Homo sapiens: one gene and its partner. The protein of the gene in region 2 interacts with the protein of the main gene of each other region in a pairwise test. Each region holds a gene or a part of one and is shown on either strand. Other genes may lie near its edges.

What was found. Proteins that work in one complex are often made in the same cells at the same time.
Region 1: the proteins of FAM217A (region 2) and TEX11 interact in binary tests that used the Homo sapiens proteins (3 or more experiments, as listed by UniProt).

What each region holds. Positions count from the first base shown.
Region 1 is NC_000023.11:70,604,712-70,611,711, reverse strand, and holds part of TEX11 (testis-expressed protein 11), read left to right. Parts: intron 1-1,168; coding exon 1,169-1,209; intron 1,210-2,534; coding exon 2,535-2,621; intron 2,622-4,682; coding exon 4,683-4,753; intron 4,754-6,194; coding exon 6,195-6,311; intron 6,312-7,000. UniProt on the Homo sapiens protein: Regulator of crossing-over during meiosis. Involved in initiation and/or maintenance of chromosome synapsis and formation of crossovers.
Region 2 is NC_000006.12:4,068,338-4,077,189, reverse strand, and holds the end of FAM217A (protein FAM217A), read left to right. Parts: intron 1-710; exon of another isoform or gene 711-801; intron 802-2,528; coding exon 2,529-2,613; intron 2,614-2,733; coding exon 2,734-2,747; intron 2,748-3,682; coding exon 3,683-3,757; intron 3,758-3,847; coding exon 3,848-3,915; intron 3,916-7,269; coding exon 7,270-8,494; 3' UTR 8,495-8,823; downstream 8,824-8,852.

The DNA of each region.
Region 1 (7,000 bases), on a different chromosome or scaffold from region 2:
TTCTCCGAGATCAGTTAGGCTCTGATATACCCCAGAAGGTCAGGCTGTGGTTAAGCAGTTTCTCTTGAGGGCAAGACTTGTTAAGAACAGGGTGCTCTGGCATGTTTTAAAGTGTTTTGTTTCCTCTGCCCCCTGCAAGATGCATAAAGAGATTTTGCTCCAATATTCACTGAGTAGCTAACCAAGCTCCTGGAGGCAAAACTCACAAAACTGTGGAGGCCTCCTTATGACTGGGTCCTCCTGAGTCTTTTAATTCAGACTTGTCCACACTGAGCCTCCAGTGGTTTGTCAGTTACGCTTCAGGTTTTCCTACTCCAGCATTGGTTCCCATGGTAGTTTCCACTTTTGAATCTCTGCTCTAGTAAGCTATGACTCCCTATCTTCGCCCTTCTCTCCAATTTTTGTGGCAGTGGTTTTCCCTTTTTCCTCTCGTCTCTTATAGGTCCAAGAAGAGTTACTAATTTTTCAGTGTGTTCAGCGTTTTACTTGTTAGGAGAAACTGGCAACTTCCAAGCTCCTTACATGCATAACTAGAAACCGGAAGTTCTCTTTTAAATTTTATATGCTTAAAGAAGCTTGACAGAGGGGTCAGGAAACCTGGGTCTACTCTTTTCTTCATCTGTAAAATGATGTGTCTGTACAAGATAAGTTATTTTTTAAGCTGCATTCCTTAGAACCGTGGAAATTTTGTGGCACTGCATCAGGGACTTCCAGGAAGGTGAAACTCCAAGCCTCCACCCACTCCTCGTTCAACCACAGCAGCTCAACTTTTATCTTTTATCTTTTCTTGTATATTAGACTTTTATACAACTTTATTTGAAATAAGGGTTCTAGTTCCCCCCTTCAAAAAAGCTTATAAATCACAGAGATCACCAGCTGCTCTCAAGTGTTATGACCCTACAATATAAAACCTTGTCATTGAAATCCTTTGCTGAGAGTTTATGAAGAAGTAGAAGAGAGAAAAAATATGAGGGCACTGGGAATGAGTAACTGTATCCTACAGTGGGGAAGAAGATTGTTGAAATGGTAGATTGGAGTCCTGAGCAAAAAACTTCACAATTTTGCATTTTCTTAGTTCAATTCTCAGGCACAAATAGTGTCCCTTTTTAGTTATGTTTTATAGTAAAGATTTGGAGCAGTTGGAAAATATCCTTTTCTTTATTTTTAGGAAGAAAGAAATGGATCGACTTTTGACTTGCCTGAATAGAGGTAAATATCTCCCTGGTTATATTCAGTCCTTCATCTTGCCTCTATTCTCTGTTGAATTCTCCAAGTACACTAAGCACAGCAACTTTAACCTTATGTTTGAGTTAAGCTTCATGCTCCTTATTAATCTTTGCCACAGGAATCTATTTTGGTTTCTTCATTCACAAGCAGAGAAAAGTGTGTCATCATTAGCATTCATCTCCAAATGTGATTTCAGTTCTGTTTTAATTCCTATTTGTTTTAAGGACATTTCCTTCCCTCCCTCCCTCCCGTCCCTCCCTCCCTCCCTCCCTCTCTTCCTTCCTTCCTTCCTTCTTTCTCTCCTTCCCCCTTCCCTCCCTCCTTTCCTTTCCTTCTCTCCCTTCCTCCCTTCTCTCCCTCCCTGTCCCTCTACCTTTCTTTTCTAGTAGCCACTTGATCCTAACCTAAGAATTGAACAGGTGAAAAAAGATCAAGACAAATAAAAATACTCTGAACCCTGCTGTTTTTTTCATACCCTCTGAATCAAATTCAGGTTGCATATTCTCTTATTTTGAAGCTGTCCACCCAAGTCTGTGCCATCTCCCTTATCTACTAATAATTTTTCCCTGTCCACTTTATTCAAGCTAATCTCCTAGTTGTATCACATTTTTTTTCTAACTACATGCTTTTTTACATGGCATCCCTTTTAACAGATCTCCCATTTTTACTGTCCATGTACCTCTTTCCTTATGTCCAAAACACACCAAAAAGTTCATATCTTAGAAATTCTATCCTGCTCAGTGCAGTAGTTCAATTTTATACCTCAAATACCTGTCAGCAGGGTGTTAAACATAGCAAAGTGGTTTAGAAACCAGACCACTTCTTTTCAAAAGAGAAAAACTTTGCTGGTTGGCATTCTTATTTCTCAGAAAGAGAATGCCTTCTGATAGTGATAGCACATTCTGGTTCTGTCCTGAGCTTGCTGGCTCAGTAAATATTATGCCAGCATATTGATACCCTTCTAATTTTCAATCTCCAGTTCAGTCTTTTAAACGATTGTTTCTATTTTTTATTTCCTCACATGTAAATCATATCTTTCTACCTCAGGTGGTGAATGATTGCACTAATTAAAATTATAAATCTCTCCAAAGACATGTTTGTTCCCCAGAGTTTGAGTTAACAACTTCTTGGAACTTGGTAATGCTTTCTGTCATTTTAATTACTTTTGGTATGCACCCCTACACACATACACAAAAAAGAACTTTCTAAATTCAAACTCCTGTGAGACTGTTCTTAAAGCAGGATTAAACAATTTTGCTAGAGTATAAAATAAGACCATCAGTATCAAATTTTCCTGTTTGATGCAGCCTTTGTGAAACTTTCTCAGCCTTTTGGTGAAGAAGCCTTAAGTTTGGAGTCAAGAGCTAATGAAGCTCAGTGGTTTCGAAAAACAGGTAAGAGGAAATTCTGTGGCTCTGGGAAACATTGTGGGGTGGTGGAATTAGACAGATGTGATTTCAAATTCTGGATCTTTCATTTGTAGCTGTGGGTACAGAGATAACTTGCTTAATCTGTTTTATTACTTATAAAATGGAAATAGTTATATATACTTCATGCAGTTATTAAGGGTTTTAAATGAAACAGCATATATACTTTTTTCATAGTAGATACTCAATGGACATTAGTTGTGTCCCTTTTCTATAGAAATGGGTCTAAGATGAAACTAATGAACTGTAACTACAGGTCCTCAAGGTTGTGCTCCTAAACTTGGTTTAGAATACTTAATTTTTTTTTTTTTTTTTTTGAGATGGAGTCTCGCTCTGTCGCCCAGGCTGGAGTGCAGTGGCTTGATCTCAGCTCACTGCCAGCTCCGCCTCCCGGGTTCACACCATTCTCCTGCCTCAGCCTCCCTAGTAGCTGGGACTACAGGCACCCGCCACCACGCCCGGCTAATTTTTTGTATTTTTAGTAGAGATGGGGTTTCACCGTGTTAGCCAGGATGGTCTCGATCTCCTGACCTCGTGATCCACCTGCCTCGGCCTCCCAAAGTGCTAGGATTACAGGCGTAAGCCACCGTGCCTGGCCTAGAATACTTAATTTATTTCTGAGTGTGATTGACCAAAAATGAACTATATACAACAATATGGATGAATCTCACAAACATAATGTTGAGCAAAAGAAGCTAGATATTGAAGAATACATATTGTGTTGTTCATTTTATTTATAATTTTTTAAATGGGCAAAACTAATATATGGTGTTATAAGTCAGGATAATGGTTACCCTGGAAAAGGAGTTGGACTTGAAAGTTGTAGGAGCTTCAGGGTTTCTGGTAATGTTCAAGATCTTTCTTAATGTGGGTGCCAGACGCATGGATATGTCCACTTTGTGAAAATTCATCAAGCTGTACAATTATGAGTTGTGTAATATACTTTATAATGGCTCTATTTCAATAAAAATGATTTTAAAACTTGCGGAGGCAGTTACTACAGTGATAAGTAAGCATGAGCAATTAAGCAGCAGTGCCACAAAGTGGACTGATTCTACATGAACCTCTCCCTGTGTTATGAGGTTTAATAGGGCTTTAATCCTGGGAGAAAGGGAATGAATACTGCAATCTGACTTCTAAGAAACTGATGCAAATAATGAAAAATAACAAACATTTAAAATATAGACAAGTTTGGTGACTTTAATCTTTTGAAGGTTTGAAAAGGAATGTTTTTACTTTACTGCATTTTAATTTGGATTTTCCAAGGGGAAGATGATGCTGACTGATGCCTGATGAGGGCTTCTACTGCTCTTTGGAAGATATGAATCTCTCCAGTAATTTTTCTCAACTCTTGATTACAGTGTACCTTGTTCTTAGGTGAATTTTAACTTACTTTCACCACTGCGAGTTAGTGAGCTCTATCCATGTTGATCTTCATTTTTAGATAGATTAGTGTCAATTAAGAATTTTTTTTTTTTTTGAGACGGAGTTTTGCTGCCAGACTGGAGTGCAGTGGTGGCATCATAGCTCACTGTAACCTCAAATTCCTGGTGTCAGTCTTCTGGGACTATAGTTGTGTGCCACCACACCTGGCTAGTTTTGTTTTGTTTTGGTTTGTTTTTTAATTTTTTTGTATAGACGGAGTCTCTCTCTGTTGCCCAGGCTGGTCCTGAACTCCTGGCCTCCAGCAATCCTCCTGCCTTGGTCTCCCAAAGTTCTGGGATTATAGGAATGAGCCACCAAGCCTGGCCTCAGCTAAGAATTCTTATTGCATGTCCCCAATTTTAAAAAATTCAGCAGTACCTCCCTTGGTCATTGGTCTAGTGTTGAAGATTGGAATTGACGAGGGTCTCTAAATTTACCTGGAAAATTTTTCTTTAAAACCTAAAGTTAATTGTTTAAACCTTGAGAAACCCCTTACTAGTATGTTAATATCAAAGGTGTAAGTATCAGAAATTGTAATGGTACAGACTAAATGGTAGATTTTCATAATTTCATATTATTATGTTATTTCATGTTAATTTCCAGCTTGGAACTTGGCTGTGCAATGTGACAAAGATCCAGTGATGATGAGAGAGTTTTTTATACTTTCTTATAAGGTAAGTTTCTTTTAATAAGTATCTCATGTATGGACCACAACAAGGCTATAACCACTATGGCTATAGTAAAGGGCTAAATATAGACTAGGATTGTCTCTTGATCTAGGAACTTTTAATATATATGTAAGCAGGAATGACCTAAGAAGAATTTGTTCCTTTTAGGGTATAACATAAGAATGTGGGGCATATCTTTCTATACCAAAATATCAGAAACATTCATCAGGGAGCCTAAAGTTCTACCATTTAAGACTTATTTCTTTGCCTTTGAAGGGATCTCAGCCTCCCAAAGTCCTATATTAAAATGTAAATATCTTTAGGAGGGGAATACTCTAAGTAGTTGTTAATTACCAACACATTATGAAGAGTTATGGGAATAAGTCTACAAGAACATAGAATAAGTATCTGGGGATAGCAGGGGCTGAAAAAAGAGATAAGAAGCTTAGGCCTCCTTTATAACTTTCCTATAGCAGGTCCTGAGTGTAGCGATTTGTGAGTTTGTTATTTAATTATAAGCATTTTTAAATAGTCGTTGGCCTCCAAGGTAGAGGTTAAATGCCAGAAAGAGGACCAAGTATTGACAGGAAGATAAAAGGAGAAGGACTAAAGAATATCCTTCATACACATTCAGGAATACACAGTATGATATGTTGAGATCAATTAAATGTTAAGAGTTTTAGAGCTAGAAAGAACTATAAAGACTATCTAGCACAACTCCTTCATCTCACATAAGAGTAATCAGAGACCTAAAGAGATTGGTTGTCTTAAAATGCTATTAATTTAATAACAATGATGATTATGATCACTGAATGTTTGGGGAGATTAAGAAATAGTCTTTGCAAGTTTAGGCATAACTGCCATTTTAATTAAGTGAAATAAATTGGTTTTAGTTTTGGCATTTGTGATGGGACTTGTAGGATTGGCGTGTAAGAATCCAAATGGCCTAGAGTTTTATTGTAGTAGCTGGGAGTTTTTCCTAAAACTATACAATGTTAATGATGAGGTCATGACTAATGCCTGTCAAGATTTGACAATGCCTCTTTCAACCATGACAATATATGAACTAATTTTGGCTCTATTCAATACAAAGGTGGAAATCTTATTTGCCAGGGGAAAAATCACTTACAAATTACAACATAAACCAAGAAGTAAATCACTAGATAGAAATACAAGGGCGAATGATACTACTTGTCACTGGAAAAGATAGGAATACTGTGAAGAAATGAAGCTTTTTATCTCTAGGAAGGTACTAAAAACAATGGAAAGTAATATAAAATTAAAAGCATAAATCAGTATTATAGTTTATATCATTTCTATGGTGACATGTGCTTTTCCAGCTGAATTTTCTCATTCAAACAGGAAGTTGCTGATTTTCATTCTGATTGTTTGTGTTCACCTGGCAGAATTCTCACTATTCATTGATGTTCTGGTTACTTCTTATCAGATGTCCCAGTTTTGTCCTTCTGATCAAGTAATTCTGATTGCACGGAAAACATGTTTACTTATGGCAGTTGCAGTTGATCTAGAGCAAGGGAGAAAAGCTTCAACAGCTTTTGAACAGGTAATGTGCAACCTTCAAAGAAAAGACAAGAGTTCAGTGTGCTATTTGATATGTTTGCCTTCCCTGATGCAGTTCTTTTTGATTCTCTTTAGAGAATCCTTTTCTCCACTCCAGCATCGTCTTGATTTCAAAAGTTTGTAATGGCTAATTCCTTCCTAAGCAAAGGTTACTTTTGGTGTGGCCTCTTCTTTTAAGAAGATTAGATATCTCTTCTTTTAAAATTCCCCTTCCTATGGACCACTCTTTCCAAAAATGTTTTTAAATATCTTTTATCTTCATTGTCTGCCTGTGATTATATACGCGTTTGGACTCCACTTTTGTTTCTTACCACATCTTCTAAGGAAGAACTCATCTGTTTCCATAGCTTTGATAGCCATCTGAAATTATTACTTATCTGGTTTTTCTTCTCTCAATTGCATTTGCTTTCTTTTTCCCACATCCTTAAATATCTCATTAACTTAATTTCTACAAGACAGAATTCCTTACCTTTGCCTGAATTCCCCTATCAGATTCTTAAATGTTACCCCTTTTAGGAGCTATCAATATCACCGTCTCCCATACACCAGATTATTGGTTTGCTTTTAGCTGTTTACCTTTCTTCTTTCAATCTAAGAAAATTGTCTCCAAATCAGACCAATAGCATTTTTGTATGATTTTTAAGATCTAGATCTCTCTGCTTGGTTTCTCGT
Region 2 (8,852 bases):
CTATTTCTTTTAACAAAGGGAAAATTAGCCAGCTCTTCTCCAAATGTCAAACATTTCTAATTGCAATTTGGCTTTGTTAAAGGTGCTGCCTTGTTATCAACCAGGCAGTGCTCACTTCTTTTGTTTTCACACACACACCCTTTGTGAAAAATATTGGTAAGGCAGGTGGGATATCACAAAGCATAATCAAGTCCCAACTCTTAAGAAATTTGCAAACTGTCAGACTTCATGTTTAGTTAATGAGCATTCTTTACCAGTTGATCAATTTGGTTATGTTAATTTTTTGTTGTTTTGGTGTTTTTTGTTTGTTTGTTTTGGAGACGAGACTTAGTCTTCCTCTGTCTCCCAGGCTGGAGTGCTGTGGCACGATCTCAACTCACTATAACCCCCACCTCCCGGGTTCAAGCGATTCTCCTGCCTCAGCCTCCCGAGTAGCTGGGACTACAGGCATGTGCCACCACGCCCGGCTAATTTTTGTATTTTTAGTAGCGACATGTTGGCCAGGCTGGTCTTGAACTCCTGACCTCAAGTGATCCACCCGCCTTGGCTTTCCAAAGTGCTGGGATTACAGGTGTGAGCTACCATGCCTGGCCTGGTTTCATTAATTTTATTTTAGAATTGCAACAACACAGTTTCATCAGCTGAGGATATTTCTCTCACGTGCATTTCATACAAAAGTATCAGGATTATATAGCTGAAAAAAGCTTAAAAATCCACCAGACATCGTAAAAAAGTCTGAAGGGGTGCATCTCACACATGAACATAAAAACCCAGTCATCGTGCTGTGAACTACAAAAGGATCTTTAAAATACAAATAACTGGGCCTCACCCTCATTCTTTTTTTTTTTTTTCTTTTTTTTTGAGACGGAGTCTCACTCTGTCACCCAGGGTGGAGTGCAGTGGTGCTATCGTGGCTCACTGCAACTTCTGCGTCTCGGATTCAAGTGATTCTCCTGCCTCAGCCTCCCAAGTAGCTGGGATTACAGGCACCCACCACCACGCCCAGCTAATTTTTGTATTTTTAGTAGAAATGGGGTTTCGACATGTTGGCCAGGCTGGTCTAGAGCTCCTGACTTGAGGTGATCTGCCCGCCTCGGCCTCCCAAAATGCTGGGATTACTGCCACTTGAGCCACTGCGCCCGGCCCTCACCCTCATTCTTTAAAATCAGGATTTGCAGCATTTTTTTGCAACTATTATTTTTAAAAAGCTCCCCAGGTGATTCTCATGTAGAGATTAGCCCTTGTACATATCATGCCAGAGAGCAGAGAATTAATTTTATTAATTATATTTTTCATAAATCTATAGAGAATGATAATCTGCAGTCTCCCTTCCAATGTTCAACTACCCTTCCTATCAGGAGATATCTCTTTGTGGATAAATTAATCCTCATGCTGTATTGAAGCTTATTTCTCTCTGTTCCTCCTTAGTGAAGAGATTGTATCTAATAATACCTCACATTTCATTTGCTTAGAGTTTAATTTACAATGCTTTTTTGAGACAGAAAACAATTGGGTTCATTCCTAAAAAGTTACTTTCTTATAAACGAATCACCTCTTCACTTTCTGTTTTCCAGAATAAATTGTTATAATCTTCTACACACCTCCCACATTTTCCCCCATAGCACTCTGCACAATGTCTGGAACATAAATACTCAGTTGTTATTAGCACCTTTCCCGTTTTATTTTTGGCTTTCTTTTGAATATTTCCTAAGTGTTCCTCCACATCTGGAAGCCAGAATGAGTAGTGGGCTGGTTAGTGTTGAATATAATATGAGGGTTAGAGACTTCCTGTGGTTGATGGAAAGATTTTTACAGGCTTTTATTTTTTTAATTTTATTTATTTATGTATGTATTTTGAGACAGAGTCTCACTCTGTGGCCCAGGCTGGAGTGCAGTGGTGTGATTGCAGCTCACTGCAACCTCCACCTCCTGGGTTCAAGCGATTCTCCTGCCTCAGCCTCCCGAACAGCTGGGATTACAGGTGCGTGCCGCCACACCTGGCTGATTTTTGTGTTTTTATTGGAGACAGGGTTTCACCATGTTGGCCAGGCTGGTCTCAAACTCCAGACCTCAGGTGATCCTGACCTGCCCCGGCCTCCCAAAGTGCTGGGAGTACAGGCATGAGCCACCACACCTGGCTTTTTATAGACTTTTAGATCTGATACTCAGATATAGAAAGTTTGATGAATGCACCATTGTGTTCCAGAGGCACACTGAACAGGACATTTTATTACATTTTAAAAATCAATTTTGAAAACCTGTGTTATTATATTTAACAAAATGTGAACGAAACCACAAATTATTGTAAAAGCCTGATTCCTCAACAATAGGCATTATCAAACTGATAAGGGCTTGGTTAAGAGAAAATTGCTTTCTCCTCAAAGATGCTGATAAGTTCTTTATAATGAGGGGTGAGAGTCATGAAGCTTTGTGCCTTTCGTCATACTTTACCCCAAGAACATGTGAAATTATTGAGCTTTTTATGTTTTCTTAATGTTAAGTTTATCCTAAAACAAATATTGTTTTAGAACTTATCTCACTGGAATTTGGATTCAGAAGTACCTGTTTCTGAAAATAAAAACCTCCCAGCTGGAAGGGATGGAGCAGCAGGTGGTAAGAAATCCTAGATGTGTATACTTATACTGAAAGAATCACTCATATTAAAAGGGGGTTTGTTTTGAATATAATCAGTTTTATGTAACTATTAATTGTCATTTTTTATACACATTTCAGGCAAAATTAACAAGGTAAGGATGAATGTTTGGTTTTAAGGTATTCATAAAACATACGATTTTAAAATAAGTATGTTCTTTAAAAAAATTTTCTTCCTGAAAGTTAAACTTTAAATTTCATTTCTGTAGAGTTCTTCACACAAGTCAAAGTCAAATATTTTAGAGTTTCAAGTTGGTTATTAAATGAATATTTTGTTATATTAAGTATTTTTCAGTATAACAATAATATAAATGAAAATTGAGTATAGTATTTTTTAGTCATTGCCGAAAGGGAAGTAGTCCTGTCCTTTAAAATGTCTTGAAGCAGGCCGGGTGCAGTGGCTCATGCCTGTAATCCCAGCACTTTAGGAGGCTGAGGCAAGTGGATCACTTGAGGTCAGGAGTTTGAGACCAGCCTGTGCAATATGGTGAAACCCCATCTCTACAAAAATACAAAAAAATTAGCCAGGCATGGTGGCACATAGCTGTAGTCCCAGCTACTCGAGAGGCTGAGCTCAGCAGGAGAATCGCTTGAGCCCGGGAAACAGAGGTTTCAGTGAGCCGAGTTCGTGCCCCCGTACTCCAGCCTGGGCAACAGAACGAGACCCTGTCTCAACAACAACAAAATGTCTTGAAGCAGTTGAAATGACCAATATCTTGTTCTGAAGTAGTGGAAAATTAATCTTTTTGTTTATCCTTTTTGATCAAAACATAAAACATTTCACTGCAAAATAAAGACAATCTTAATGATATTCAAGTCTTATTAGTTAACAGTTTAGTTGGTATTTATAATAAATAGGTTTTACTAATTTCTGCTGAAATCAGTAAAAACAAATGATTTCTTTGTATATAAACAAAGTGTCATTCAGTTTTACCATACATTCCTTGATTAGAACAAGAACTATACATTGTTAGAACAAGAATAGGGAACAGAGATATATTATGTTTAAAAGTCTTCTGCTGCCTTATAGAACTATTTGGAAATTCCAGTGGAGCAACTGATGCTAGAACCTAATTTGTCGGTGCATAGTCAAAAAAGTACACAGGTGGGATTTTATTCTTCATACCCTTAAAATATTATATTTTAAAAATATATGCAGCTACTAAACTATTACCCATTATTTTTCTGTCATCAGAATAGTAAACAAGGGATCTTTCAATTATGGAATTGTCCTCTTAATGAAGGAAGTACCATAGAGAAGAGGTAAGCGAGTAGTTATTTTGTAACACCCTAAATTACTGAAATAAATTTAGATACACATGAGATAACTATTTGAAATACAAGGACCATGAACAACCAGAAGAAAATAGTATTCTGTGGGAATAGTGGGCAATTGTAGAAGTCCACCCTAAAGCAGGAAGTGGCTGCAGATACCACGAGACAATTAGAATAGGTAGGAGTCAAGAGCTGACCATGTTCTGACAATGAAGGTTTTAGATGGATAAAGTATGGACTTCCTGTTGAAAGCAAAAGGAACTGTAATAGGAAAGTAGTATTGCATTCCAGGGACTATGTTAATTCCTTATATGTAGTAATTCATTTAAATCACAACCGACCATGTAAGGAAGGTAGTTATCATCCCTGTTTTGCAGATGAGGACACTGAGGCATGGTGACAAGTTAAGTAACTTGCTCAAAGTCACACAATATTAATGAAAGGGAGAGCCAGGATATGAAAGTAGCCTCTCAGACCTTACCTGAGGTTTTTTTTTTTTTGAGACGGAGTTTTGCTCTTGTTGCCCAGGCTGGAGTGCAAAGATGCAATCTCAGCTCATCACAACCTCTGCCTCCTGGGTTGAAGCAATTCTCCTGCCTCAGCCTCTGGAGTAACTGGGTTTACAGGCATGGGCCACCACGCCCAGCTAATTTTGTATTTTTAGTAGAGACGGGGTTTCTCCATGTTGGTCACGCTGGTCTCAAACTCCCGACCTCAGGTGATCCACCCACCTCGGCCTCCCAAAGTTCTGGGATTACAGGTGTGAGCCACCATGCCAGGCCGCTTTTTTTTTTTTAAATACTTTTTTAAGTTCTGGGAATACATGTGCAGAACTTGCAGGTTTGTTACATAGGTATACACGTGCCATGGTGGTTTGCTGCACCCAACCTTACCTGAGTTTTAATTCTTTTTTTGTGTGTGTGTGACAAAGTTTCACTCTTGTTGCCCATGCTGGAGTGCAATGGCACGATCTCAGCTCACTGCAACCTCTGCCTCCCAGGTTCAAGCAATTCTCTGCCTCAGCTGCCTGAGTAGCTAGGATTACAGGTGCCCGCCACCATGCCTGGCTAATTTTTGTATTTTTAGTAGAGATGGGGTTTTACCATCTTGGCCAGGCTGGTCTTGAACTCCTGACCTTGTGATTCACCCACCTCGTCCTCCCAAAGTGCTGGGATTACGGGCGTGAGCCACCGTGCCCGGCCCCTGAATGTTAATTCTTATTTTTTTGATTCTTAAACTTTATCGTGCATTAAGACTAGCTAGAAGGCTTCTTGGAAACACAGGTTACTAGTATTTGGAAATGAATGCTTTTTGAGGGCTGCTTTGTGGAGCTTTTACATAGTGTCTTAGCTCATGGATCCTGAGTTCCATGGCTCTTTTGTGTAGTTTATTTAGCAGGAGAGTGGTTCACTTGTTATCAGCCATCTCCTAGTCAGAGAATTTTACTTCTGTGAGGCCTGGGATACAGTTCACTTTATGTTAAAATTCAAGGGGGAAATCAAGTTCTATGGCAGTTGTGGTGACTGATGACCTAAAGGAATATTGGTGCTGATGGGGATAAGAAAGGCTATTTTTATGAGAAAAAACCTCAGCTGGGAAAAAGTATTTCAAGGTAAGTGGTCAAATGAAGTGAACTGAATTTTATGACAGTAGCAGAGGAGCAAACAAATGGAGGCGGTAGAATGCAGCGGTTAGGACCTGGGGCATAGGAGTCCACCACGTGCAGTTCCAGCTCTCCCACTTCCTAGATGTGTGCCCTCAGCCACTCTACACCCCCGTTCCCTTATCTGCAAAAGGTGGAAAATAAAAGTGCCTATCTCATGAGGCTGTGAGGACTAAACAGAACAATGTGTTTGGCAGGCATTTGCTATTAATATTGGGTAGGTTTAATAATGTTGCAGAGATGGAAGTTTGGTATCAATGAAAGATTTTTCTCCTCAATATACCATCAACAAATAAAAAGAATAAAAGTAACGATAACTTAGTGTTTAACATTTTGCAAAGCATATTCATATAAATTCTCTTGCTTCTCAGACTACCTCCAAGGTAGGTATTATCATTTCCATTTTGCTCACTCACTGGTAGCAAAGGGGTTCAAACCTAGGCCCTCCCTTTCCAGATTTCACACTCTTCATACTACATGTACGTGTCTATTAACAGTTGTAGATTTAAAGTGATTTTCCTGTGGTTTTTCAAAGGCAAAGCAGTATGCCTAGTATTTAGCTAAATTAGTATTTTTTTCTTTTTCTTTTTCTCTTTTTTTTTTTGCAACAGGGCCTCATTCTGTCACCCAGGCTGGGGTGTAGTGGTGCAGTCATGGCTTACTGCAGCCTCAACCTCTGAGGCTGAAGCAGTCTTCCCAACTCAGCCTCCAGAGGAGCAGGGACTACAGGTGCATGCCTCCATGCCCAGCTAATTTTTTGTAGACAAGAATTTTGCCATGTTGCTCAGGCTGGTCTCAGAATCCCAGGCACAAGCAACCCGCCTGCCTTGGCCTCCCAAAGTGTTGGGATTACAGGTGTGAGCCACTGTGCCTGGCCTCGAAAGTATTTTTCAAAACTTTTCCAGATTACTTTGTTATCTTTAATGTCAACTGGCTTAAAAAGAAACAAGAGGATATCAAGACTATATGTCAACTAATGCATCAAATCTTTTAATCTCAGTATTTCTAGTTATCTTTAAAAAACAAAAACTAACTAGAAACTCAGTATTCTATGGCTTTTTTGTAGTTTTCATTTTAACATAATACCTAGAATTACTCCTAAAATAGAAGAGCATCATTATATGAAAATTACTAGGGACTATATCTGGGATAATTTTTAATAGGTATTGTTTGCTTCCTTTTTTGTTACAGTAATTTTTAAAAACCACAGTGGCTAACATAGAAGGCTTTTTAAAGTAACCTAATTACATTTTTTGAGTTTCCTTTTATCTAATTCTGGATCAATAAACATTTCACTTTAATTTCAGTTTGAGTTAGATATCCTCATTTTCAAACATAATAATTGCATGTACACTATAGACAAACATATAGTTAGCCACTTTTAACCTTTGTCTATTCACAGCTACAGTTAGCCGTTTTAGGTGTCATAATCTAGTCACCTGTGCTTGCACAAAGGGATGCCCAGTTAATATTTTAATCTATATTTTTAAAATTTATGTAGTTGTATATTAGAGCATTTTTGGAAACTAACATATTTCTGTTGCAGGTAGCTAGATACACATATGCCATTGGGAACTAAACATTAACCAATCTTTGATAAAGGGTACTTAACTGTATCATTTTAATAGCATTTTAATTCTAGTCAATAAACCATTCATTAATTAAATTATTTTTTAAAGGGAATTCAAAAAATCTTCAGTGGAAACTGGCTTTAATGTAATCAATCATCCTATAAGGGTCTTCACTCTGAACCACCCATTAACAATTGCTTCAGTTGATAAGCAAGTTGGTCCTTACCCTGGACTGCCAATGCCATTAGGTCTCTGCTGGCCCTATGCTGATGGAGACTTTTTTAAGAACAGAAATGAGATTCATGTTAGTTCATGTTCAACTATAGAAAACAATGATGGTGAAACATTACCTGCTCCAAATTGGAATTTGAAACATGGAAACAGCAGTGTGGAAGAAAATTTCACAGATGAAAGTGATTTATCAGAAAATGAGAAGACAAATGATACTTTACTCAGCTATTTTAAAAAGGTGGACCTGAACTTGAAGCCAGAAACAATAAAAAATGTTGAGGAACCTTTCACCGAGGAGCCAAATGAAGTATTTCCATATCCTGATTTTCTCCCTCCTCCTTTCAGTGCTCTAGACTTGCACAATTTAGCCCTCTCCAAATCTGACAATTGGAAAGTGACAGTGGACCCTGCAGAAACCTCTGTTGAACACTTGATAACTCGTTTACTGGAACTAGAACGATTACAACATATGACTATTCAAAAAGAGAGGCCAAGACTACAAACGACTTTCTGTACTCCAGCAGTTACTGAACGACCCTCTTCCTCCAAAGCTACACCAAAAGTGAGACAGCCAAAACTTTGCGACTCTTTGAGTCTTCAGATACCTTGTGTAGATAAAAGTCAAGAAAAAAGTAAAAACAACTCTGGTTCTTGTAAGCTTGAACAAAATGCTTTAAAACGGAATTGGAGCAATGCTGGCAAATATAGATGGAATTCTAGACCACTGTCTCTAAAAAGTTCTTCCACCCCAAAACAATTGATTGAAACTTATGATAAGAATCCCAAAAGTTCTATTTTAAGTCCATGCCAAGAACTCTCATTCAAACCTACTATTGGCCATACAAATCAATCAATGGTTAAAATGGTCTCCACAAGATGTCTGCCATGGAGGTCTCCAATGCCAGTTTCACCTATACCTCTGACTTTTCCCGAAAATCAGAAGGAAGAAATTAAGGCACCGAAGAGAAACTTTGGGACCAAAAAGAAACTTTACCGACAAAATATAGTGTTGAATAGACCATTCTCTATTCAGAAGCTAAACTGTTTGTCGCCTTCCCTTATTGCTAAGGATAAGTGCTGCTCACCCATTGAACAAAAATAACTCTTTTCTTTCATACATCTCAATGTGAACACATCTACTCTAAGAAGCCCAACTAAGATATGGTTAATTATTCCAAGACACAGGTACTATTAACAGTCCCCCAAAATCACCAAACAGTTGCTTGATGTGATATGGAGTAGAACTTGTGAAAAGCACTGCTGAGATGTCTATATATAAACCCACAGGCTTCTATACTGACATATTTCACAATCTTTTGCATGTTGTGTTTCAAGTAAATGGTTCACTTGGTAGACTATTCTATTCAAAAGGCTACTCTTTTTTCAGTGATTGTTTTCCAGTATAATTCCATCAATAAATGGTATAATTGACTTATTGCAGCTGTAGTTCTTGTCATATA